Linked DNA regions of Homo sapiens: region 1 is linked to region 2. The links come from fine-mapping of genetic effects on gene expression. A gene starts in region 2. The other region holds a variant in brackets. All regions are shown on one strand. Distances are between the middles of the regions.

Region 1 (5,380 bases), 21 kb after region 2:
TGAAGTACAATGGTTATTGCCAAAAAAAAAAAAAAAAGCATATTACTGTTTGAGTTGCAAGCTAATCAAGTCATTTTTTTCAAGGACACCATTTTTACTTGAAAGGAAACTTGAGTGACAAACCACGGTCAGTTACTCAGACCTGGGTATTTGGCAGACATTTTTGAAAATTAACAAAGTGAGGCTGCCACTCTGGGGAAAACCACTGACATTATTTGTTGCATGTGATAGAATTCAAGCTTTCAAGTGAAAATTAGAATTTTGGAAAACTTGTATCTGCCACCACAAGTCTGACAGCTTCCTACTTAAAATACTTTTCAACTAAGATCAATACAGATATGAACAAATACGATTTTTTAATACTATAGGATGAAATATGTCAACATTGGAAGAGCTGCATGATTTAGTGAATTGGGATTTTTCCAAATAATGTCGTAGAATTGTGGCATCAAGTAAAAGATAAAATAGACAAATGGGTATTACTGTAACAGACTCTGTCAATATGGTTTCAGATTCCACATGCAACACTGAAGTTTTGCTATAATATGTATGAAAGAAGAATACCCACAATTATCTGAAAATGCTTCTAAAATACCTTTCTTTCCTAACCTCTTCAATGAAAACAACAGATCACAACAGACAGAATCAGTAACAGACATGAGAATTTAGCTGTCTTCTCCTAGGTCAGAATAATGTGCAAATAAATATATTTGCAAAAATAGAAAACACTGCCACTTTTCTCACTATATTATTTTGGGGTCTGGAAAACAGTCACTGCTCAAAAAAGATATTAATGTTAGATAATTTGTTATATTTAAATAAATTAAAATGTTTTTTAGATTTCTCAATTTATAAATTATAAATATCAATAGATATAACTCACATACATAAAAGTTTTTTGGGATCCTCCAATTTTAAGAGTGGAAAATGGATCCTGAGACCAAAAAAATTGTGAACTGCAGATCTAGGGGGATATTCAACAAGCTTTAACAGTGGTTATCTCTGGGGTGGGATTGTAAGAAACTGTCACGTTTAGCCGGATATGGTGGCTCATGCCTGTAATTCCTACACTTTGGGAGGCCGAGGTAGGAGGATCACTTGAGGTCAGCATGACCTACATGGTGAAACTGTGCCTCTTCTAAAAAAAAAAAAAAATCCAAAAATTAGCCAGGTGTGGTGGTGCACGCCTGTAATCCCAGCTACTCAAGAGGCTGAGGCAGAAGAATTGCTCGAACCCAGGAGGCAAGGTTGCAGCTGAGACTGCACCACTGCACTTCAGCCTGGGCAACAGAGTGAGACTCCCCACCTCCCCCGAAAAAAGAAAAGAAACTGTCGCTTTCTATCACATATTTTTGTAAATATTCTAATTTGGGCACACAGTGTTTTTTAAATAGGGAAAAAATCTTCAAAAAAGAAAACCCAGCAATGTAGCAATGTTATGCAATGAACAACGTTCAAGACAGACTGAAAAGTTGGTCACATTCTTTATGTTTTCCCCATGTTATAAATATTGTTAGGCCTATCTTATTTCGTTCAAATAGTTTTAAAGGCTTGTAACACATGCATGCTATAATTGCATTTTCATTACAAAAAAATTTAAACATAGAAAAGTCTCAAAGAATGGGTCATGGTTATGACTGGGTCAGTAATTTGAGTTTTTTTTCTCTTAGCTTTTTAGTATTTTCTACTTTTCTATAAAAGCAAATATAAAAAACAAATAGCTCCAAAAGGTCAAATAAAATATCATGCCCAAAAATCAAGACAAAAACAAATTAAAAGAAATGCATGGCTATAAGAGTTCCAGGCACAAAATATCATGTCTGGTTCTCTAGCCCTGCCCATTAAAAATGTACCCACTACTGAAAGAGACAGAATGAAAGAAAACAGCCCAGTTCTAAGGAGCTAGTCCAAGCTGGTAGGAGTCAGCCAGGAGTGAAGACAGGTGCACAGCTGACAAGCACTGCCTCCCTCCCCACCCCGAGATCAGTTACCTTTCCAGGTTGTAATACTCTAGCCACATGTTGGCGTACTTGGCATTTCCTCTGGTCATGATGCTATCCCAGAGTTCCCGAGCTTTCTGCATGTTATTGCACAGTCGAGCCTAAAGTGCATCAGCAGGCTGTTAGGAGACCTGAACCTTATGACGTCGACACCCATCATACAACACACTTCCAACAGACACACATAAAAAGCACCCCACAACTATTAGTGTTACAGATGTCCCTGGGCATTCCCCAGGCCTCCCTCCAGTGGTAAACGACCCAGCCCAAACACTTGAGCCTTTCTGCAGCCACAAGCTAATCTACCTATGTTTCCTGAGAACCGAGAGAGGGAGCGCACGGTACTTACTCGACAGTACTAGATAGTCACGTTTTTTATTTTTATCAAGCTTAACTACAAGTGTTTGAGAGACAATGTTAAAAAAAAAAAAAAGACTGATCTAGTATTAAATGCACACTCTGCTACTAATACTTACAAACTGTGACTTGGGCAAATTACTTAACCTGTAATTCTCAGTTTTCTCATCTTTAAAATGGTTAAAAGATAAGCATCCCATATAAAAACTACCTGACAAATGTTAGTTTCTTCTATCTGACGCTCCCTCC[G/A]AGGAGAAAACATGATTAGAATTGTTACAATCCTACCTGCTGATCAAGGGAGGTTCCGTGTCTTACTGACCTTGGTGTCCCTGACCCAGTAATGACATTCAAGTCATCATATCCTCTAATTACTTGTCAAATCATCTGTCTTCTACATTAGATAGAAGCCTTACTAGCAAAGGAATTTTATCTGTCTTATTCCCACAGCACCTAGTACAGTGCTGACAAACAGTACACGCTCACTGTGCTCTCACAAATGAAGCAAAGAGGCAGAGACAGAAGTAAACGAGTGAATACCTAGCATCTAAACATTTACTGCACAACTTCTAGCTGGGAGCTAATATTTTCACCAACATATTTACAAATATATGTCAAGCTAGGTAAATAACATGAATCCTTGTGGAGCCTAGACCATTACCTAGGTAATAACATAAATCCTTATAGAGCTTAGGCCATTATCTGGGATTCTGACTCAATTTTAATTAAAGTTTAATAGGATGCTATTAAACAATGATGGATGAAAGTGCTAGATGTGTCAAAAACATTTACCTCAATCCTAGCCCAGTTCTGCATAATCACGCAGCTTGGATCACCACTCTCATTGAAACCTTCAAAAACAGAATTAGTAAAATTAGAAAGGAACTTGGAGACAGATAGTCGCTGGCTGAAAAGGTACATCAACCAGGAAATAGTACAGACAAGGAAATACAACTGGGCAAAACCACAGGCTGGGGCATACTTACGCTCTTCCACCTCCTGCTTCAGATACTCCAAGGCACGAGTAAAGGCGGCCCTCAACTCCTCCAGCTCTTTACTGGAGTCTAACGGAAAGTGCAAAAAAAGGCTTTAGGAAACCACATAGCCTGGCTTTGTTTTATTTTTTATCCTATGCTGAAACTGCCTGGAGACCCACTATGTACCTGGCATCATGCAAGGGACACAGAAATAAAATTGCCAATTCCTGCCCTCATCACATAGTTGGGGAGAAAGAAATTTGAACAGAATAGAGCATGGACAGCGTGGTGAAAAAGGCAAACACAGGGTGCTGTGGGGGGGAGTCTCCCCCAGCTGGGGTGACACAGGCAAACAAGAGAATGGCTAAAGGCTACCTGTATGAGGTGACAGCTGACATGAGTGTGCAAGTACAAGTTAGGGGTTTTCTGGTTGTTTTCGGGGGGACATGAAGGGGCAAAGGATCCCACAGAGGTACAAAGATTTTTCTAAAACACAGCAGACTTATTTCAAGAAGTATTTAGGATAAATAAAAAGACCTGAAAGGAGAAATGAGAGCTAAGACTAAAAAGGCTGGCAGGAGCCAGTATAAACGATTACTCTCTTGCTTTACAATCCACATCATGACTTGTTAAAGACAGAAATTGCTAAGATTTCTGGGGGAAAAAGTCACCAATACCTAGTCTACATCATTTGCCCAATCACAATGTATCTGGGGAACTGGGACATCTCGCCAAAAGTTGTATTAAGAACATGTTCAGCTCTAAAGTGAAAAACATGTGCTTAAATACCTTGTTTGAAATCAACCCTTCTCCTCAGGTAATCAAGGTATGCCTGCCAAATCTCCACATAATCAGTGGCCTGGATGAAGCCGGCATTCAAAGCTTTCTCGAAGGTTACTGGAGTTGGAGAAAAGTCAGGATTTGTTACCAATTCAAATGGAAACTAATAGAAAGTCACTACATTCTACTGACTATAAAACACTACATGACTTTAAAGACTAATAGATGCAACAGAATGAAATGAGCTAGACAGGAATGTTGAAGACAGAAGTTGCTACAGCACTCTACAGACTGTGTTCTAGAAAAAACTTCTTCCACAAGACGCCCTGCAAGAAAAGTTCCAGATCAAGGAAGTTTGGAGAAAACACTACAACTTCTTAGAAAATACAATGAATATTAGCATGTTAAAAAGCTCTAAGAAGCCACAAATATAACCAGTTCATCTCTCACTCAGAGCCCTTTTTGTCACTACACTCCATAACCCAAAGAAAACCCCAGGGAACACTGATGTAATGACTTTGTCACCGCTCTCTGTTTTTCACTTGGGACAAATAGCTTAGAAGTTCTCCCACAAAAACATCCGCACCAGAAATTACTTGATGATCAACTCCATGTCTCTCCATGGCCAAGAGGTACCGACTCCATAAGGCAACTGTCCAGGGGCAGTTTCTAATAGCGCGGTTATGTACAGATAAAACCAAATCCTTTACTTTCAGTTGTCGATCCTATGATAAAGAATTCCAGAGTTAGGAAATTACACTTTATTAAGCATTCACCATCAACAAGACATTGCCAGCACGACCAAGTGATGAAAGAAATGTCCTTATAAACATCTCTTGTGACCTGGTTTCCTCAACAACAACAAAAAAATCACTAAGGGGAGTGGAGGAGAAGGAGAGGAGCAACTTACAGGTTAAAACAGCCTTAAAAGACGTCAGCCAACCCTACTGGATAGACCTCATTTGGATCCTTTTATACAGACACACTGAAATATTTTATATACACATACTGAAATATTTACCAACGAAATATCATTTCTGGATTTGCTTCAAAGTAACACAGAAGGGACAAGTAGGTGAGACTACAGATCAAAGTAAACTAAAGCTATAAATGTTACTAATTGTTGAAGCTGGGTGAGGGGTACAGAAGTTTCATTTTACTGATCTGTCTACTTTTATATGTTTACATTTTTGCCATAATAAAAAGTTAAAAGAAAAATATCAAGTTGTTATAAGTCCTCAACACAGACAATATGCTCATTTTACTTAC
Region 2 (5,379 bases):
CTGGATTTACTACTCGTAGCCTAAGCTAATTAAAGACTTAACAAAGAGAGGAGGGTGCCTTTAGAAGCAGAGGACTACATTGCTTTATACCTGGGTGTGGACAGGGGTCCACTAGTCCCTTAATACCCAGCTCAGTGAGGATAAGTGACTTGTTCAAGGTCACCCAGCCAGCAAGCGGTGGGCCTTGCATTTCAACGCACATCTGTCTGACCCCAGAGCTTCACTGTTTTCTAACATACTGTCACCCATAAGCTGGCTGCCTACCAGGCCCTCCTCTGGGGAAGGTTTTTACAATGACATTACTACTTGGGCCATCAGGAAGTGCAATTCAGAGGACTCCAAGAGAAAAATGTTTATGACCTTGGTTGAAAAGATTAAAAACGAGAAGCCACCAAAATAATCACCACCCTGATTTTGTTCCTTAAAAACTATGGATCTTCTGGCCAGGCGCGGTGGCTCAAGCCTGTAATCCCAGCACTTTGGGAGGCCAAGGCAGGTGGACCACTTGAGGTCAGGAGTTGAAGACCAGCCTGGCCAACAGAATGAAACCCCGTGTCTATTAAAAATACAAAAAAATTAGCCGGGTGCAGTGGCACATGCCTGTAATCCCAGCTACTCAGGAGGCTGACGCAGGAGAATCGCTTGAACCCAGAAGGTAGAGATTGCAGTGAGCCAAGATCACACCACTGCACTCCAGCCTGGGTGACAGAGCAAGACTCTGTCTCAAAAACAAACAAACAAACAAAAAAACAATTAGCCTGTGTGTGCCTGTAGTCCCAGCTACTAGGGAAGCTGAGATGGGAGGATCACTTAAACCCAGGACATGGAGGTTGCAGTGAGCCAAGATCATGCCACTGCACTCCAGCCTGGGCAACAGAGTGAGATCCTATTTCAAAAAAGATAGATAGGTGATAGATAGATAGATAGATAGATAGATAGATAGATAGATAGATAGTTTGCTCTGTGCCAGATGTATAGAATCTCATTTCACCCTCACATAAAACCTTGTGAAGTGGTAATATCATCACACTGTGCACAGTTTACAGAAAAGCCTAGACAGATGATCAACAAGATCAAGTCACTTGCTGAATGTGATTCAGTTTGCAAGGGGCAGAACTGGGATTTGAACCCAGGTCTGTGTGACTCCCAACAGTGACACCCCACAACCACCACCTAGCCCTGCCTCCAAGAGCAATACACGTCACAGAGGAGGTCAGATCTTGAAGCATCAAGCCTTCTGCAAATCCTGAACTGGATGCCAAAAGCAAGGTAGGCTGTTTGTCCCCATTTTACAAGTGGGGAAAGTGAGGCTAGGAGTAACGTGCCCAAGGTGACACGGAGAGTAAATGGCAAAGTCTGAATTTGAGCTCAGGTCTCTTTGACTCCCCAGAATCTGAACTGCTAACTTCTAAATGCTTAGCGTTTCTGGGGCACCTCCCTAGATGTTTAATTTCAGTATTTGTGGATTAAGATGGAGGTTTCCATTCTCTGCTTCAAGGAAAAAATTTCTCTCTGGGAAGCCAAAAGAACTAGCCAGGTCCTTCTGGAGAGGATACAAATTAAAAAGTCAGGGAGAACCGAGGGGGTGGCTTGCGCCTGTAATCTTAGCGCTTTGGGAAGCCGAGATGGAGGGAGAGCTTAAGGTCAAGAGTTCGAGACCAGCCCGGGCGACATAGTGAGACCCGGTCTCTAAAGAAAATAAAAAATCAGAAATAGGTCGGGCGCGATGGCTCACGCCTGTAATCCCAGCACTTTGGGAGGCCGAGGCAGGCGAATCTTCTGAGGTCAGGAGTTCGAGACCAGCCTGGCCAACGTGGTGAAACCCCATCTCTACTAAAAATACACAAATTAGGCGGGCGTGGTGATGCGCGCCTGTAATCCCAGCTACTCGGGAGGCTGAGGCAGGAGAATCGCTTCAACCTGGGAGGCGGAGGTTGCAGTGGGCCAAGATCGTGCCACTTCCCTCCAGCCTGGGCAACAGAGTGCGATTCCGTCTCAAAAAAAAAGAAAGAAAGCAAGACAGAGAGAGAGAAAAAAAAAGAAAGAAAGAAAGAAAAGAAAAGAAAAGAAAATTCGCCGGGCATGGTGGCATGCACCTGTAGTCCCAGCTACTCGGGAGGCTGAGATGGGAGGATTGCTTGAGCCCAGGAGGTGGAGGCTGCAGTGAGCTGCAATTGCTCCACCGCACTCCAGCCTGGGCGACACAACGAGACCCTGTATTTTATAAGAAAAAAAAAAGTTGTTTAAGTCAGGGAGGAAAAGACACAGAGAGGAAAAGAGTAAAGAAGAAGAAGGCGGCAAACTCAGCAGCATGGGGTGGAGGCTAAGAACAGGGGCTGCGCAGTCAAGCAGGCTAACCGGGTGAAGGGGTGAAAAGCATCAGCATCTTCATTTCACAACCGGGAAAAATGAGGCACACGACAGCGGCTCCGGGACGAAGAGACCCGAGGAAAAGACCGCCGTGGAACTTCCAGTTTCCGGGCCCGCCACCTAGTGTGCCCCAAATCCGCACGCCCATCGGGTTTCCAGCACCTGCTCCTCCTGCCTGTGGCCTAGGCCCCGCCCCTCCCGCTGCTTATTGGCTGCTACGTGAACGAGACAAACGCAAGCAACAACCAATGGGAGTGGCCCACGGCGCGTCTTTCCCGGGGAAGCCGACGCGGACGCGGGAACCCGGAAATGCGAGGGAAGGACAAGTGGGGAAAGCCAATCCGCCGCGACGAGGGCTGCGGGCGGTTCAATGGCAAGTCGCCGGGGGCGGGGCCAGAGGCCGGCGGAGAAGGAGGACCCGGGAGCCGGCGGCCCGGAGCTGGGAGCGCGGGGAAGGCGGTTGGGGTTCTGACAGCTGCGCGCGGTGAGAAGGGGAAAAGCCCTAGGGGCTCGAGAGGATGAAGCCGGGAAGGGTGCGACGGGGCCGCGAGCCCTGGGCGGGGTTCGGGAAGGGAGGCTCTGCAGTCTTGGAGGGGACTCAGACCGGTCCCCTCCCCTCTCCGGGCCTCAGTTCTCCCTTTCTAGGGAAGTGTGGGGGAGAGATTCGCGCCTCCCAGAACGCACTCCTTCCCTGCACACACCCCTGGCACCGGCGAACTGCCCCCTTTCCTGTACCGCCCCGCCCAGGAGCCTGTCCCCTCGGGAAGCCCGCCCAGACCCCTGGACCCGCGCAGCACTCCAGGCGCACCCCTATTAAAGCGCACCCCAAGCCATTTCACATGTTCTGTGGCAATGGGCCAGGATCCCCATGAGACTCAGAACCCCGTGATCCATCAGTCATTCCCGGGTCAGGACCAGCCCAGAGCAGGTGCACAGGCCCTGCTTAGTAATAAGGTAGAAATCGAGACCTGGGGACCGGGTTCAGAGGCCCTGGGGTTTCCTTCCGGATGCCTCTGTTTACCTCCTGTGGGCCTTCTGGAATTTAACTTATGCTCTCTGTGTCTTGGTTTCCCTTGTCTGTAAAATGGAGCTAGCGGTAGCTCTTCCTTCATAGGGTGGCATGAGGGTGAAACGAGGCAATGCGTGGCCAGTACACTGCTCAGCACCTAGGACACCATAGTTGCTTAATAAGTGCTTATTGTTAGCATAGTGTTTGCATGCCTGGCCCCACCTCCACTCCCACTGCCAGCCCCAAGCACATACAAGCCATGTTGTCACTGAGGCCAAGCACTGTGGCCCACAGCCTGAGTTCCTTTCGAGATGCTCGAACTGCTCATCTTCTTGATGGGGTCCCTTCTGGACAGGCCAGAAATGGAAGGCCAGAGAGGGGAAGGGCACTGTGGGAGCTGTGGCTGAATATCAGGGTGAGGGCAATAAATGAGGCCACCCAACAATTGTGCTTATCAAAGATTGGGCGTCAGAACTGCTGTGGCTGATCTGCCTGGGTGTCTGTCAGTCATTTATGTCCCAAATGTTTGACATATGTCCACAAATCCAGTGTTTGTGGTCAGAAGCCACAGGGATATATGGGAAGGGGGGACACTTTAGAGCCGTGGGGTTCCTGAGTTCAAGTCCTAAGGCTGTCACTTGCTCCCGGCGAGACTTTCGGCAAGGGACTTCACCTCTCTGAACCTCAGTTCCCTCACCTGGAGAAGGGTGAAAACATCAGCTCAAGTCGTTGAAGATTGCAGGAGGTGACCCATGTGAGGCATTTGGTGCTTAGCACACGGCCTGGATTATGGCAAGTGCTCATTAATTGTTGGACCACAGCAGTGTTTTCACATTCATACTGCCCAGGAGGTGGCACCAGTCCTTCTAGGCTGGCCCCTCCTCTAGTGAGATCCAGTCCTTGACTTGCCCCCACCCCATCTCTCTAGTGAGCTAAAAGAGCAGAAGTCTCCAAACCCATCTTCCCAGCTGAAGTCACACTATGTCCTGAACGTGTCTGTTTCTCCTGCGACTCTTGGCTCCTTGCAGATCCTGCTCTCTCTCAGCCGCCTGTGGACATGCGCAAAGGGCCCTCTCCTGAGTCCAGATGATGCTCATACCAATGGCTTCAGTGATGGCGGTGACTGAACCGAAATGGGTCTCGGTCTGGAGCCGCTTCCTCTGGGTGACGCTGCTGAGCATGGTGCTGGGGTCCCTGCTGGCCCTGCTGCTGCCGCTGGGGGCTGTGGAGGAGCAGTGCTTGGCTGTGCTCAAAGGCCTCTACCTGCTCAGGAGCAAACCGGACAGGGCGCAGCATGCCGCCACCAAGTGCACCAGCCCGTCCACGGAGCTCAGCATCACCTCCAGGGGCGCGACGCTGCTGGTGGCCAAGACCAAGGCCTCTCCAGGTAAGACAGACTGGCCGTCTTCCTCAATGCTTGTTAACTGGATAGACAGACATAGAATGTGTCATGTCCTGTATGTGGGGCATCGGGGTATTGTGAACAAGTCAGCCCTGAGCTCCTAGTATAGACAAGGTGATGTGACTGAGACAGTGTCACAAGTGTGGTGATGGGGAAGCATAAAGGGCTGTAGGAGCATACCAGGAAGGCTCCCTGGAGGAAGTGACACCTGAGCTGGGACCCAGTTGTTAAGTAGGAGTCATCCAGGGTGAAGGGCATCCAAGGAAAAGGACTCCAGGCAGAGACCAGAGGTTAGTTGTCATAACTGACATAACTGTCGTAAGAGAGCCTGGGGGCATTCGAGGAACTAAAGGAAGTTGAATGTGTGGGGCTGATCCTCAGGTGGCCAAGAGGGGCCAGGACAGGAGGGCTAGGGCTAGAGCAGGCTCCCCACCTCCACCAGTTCTCTGTGGTGGGGACTGAAAGTGCATTGTTAGATGGTGGTGGCATCCCTGGCCTCTCCCCATGAGATGCCTGTAGCACTCCCTCCACCTCCTCAGTTATGACAACTAACCAGGTCTCCAGACGTCACCAAATGTCCCCTGGGGCGCACAATCAA

What was found. PIP is the estimated chance that this variant, and not a neighbour inherited with it, causes the effect.
Region 1: its variant is the best candidate, but not a certain one, in a credible set for the expression of FICD in whole blood (INTERVAL, PIP 0.56).

What each region holds. Positions count from the first base shown.
Region 1 is chr12:108,533,368-108,538,747 of GRCh38, forward strand. SART3 (spliceosome associated factor 3, U4/U6 recycling protein) reads right to left here. Exons shown (of 19, transcript NM_014706.4): 8 at 4,698-4,836; 9 at 4,121-4,228; 10 at 3,341-3,418; 11 at 3,147-3,205; 12 at 1,992-2,101. Among named protein-coding and RNA genes, the nearest start is that of FICD, 21 kb to the left of the region's middle. The variant G/A (reference allele first, on the strand shown) is at 2,607.
Region 2 is chr12:108,512,508-108,517,886 of GRCh38, forward strand. It overlaps FICD (FIC domain protein adenylyltransferase), which reads left to right and starts at 2,770. Exons shown (of 3, transcript NM_007076.3): 1 at 2,770-2,854; 2 at 4,408-4,766. The coding sequence starts at 4,466. RefSeq lists a silencer at 560-745 and enhancers at 2,242-2,301, 4,204-4,704, 4,393-4,492, 4,705-5,205.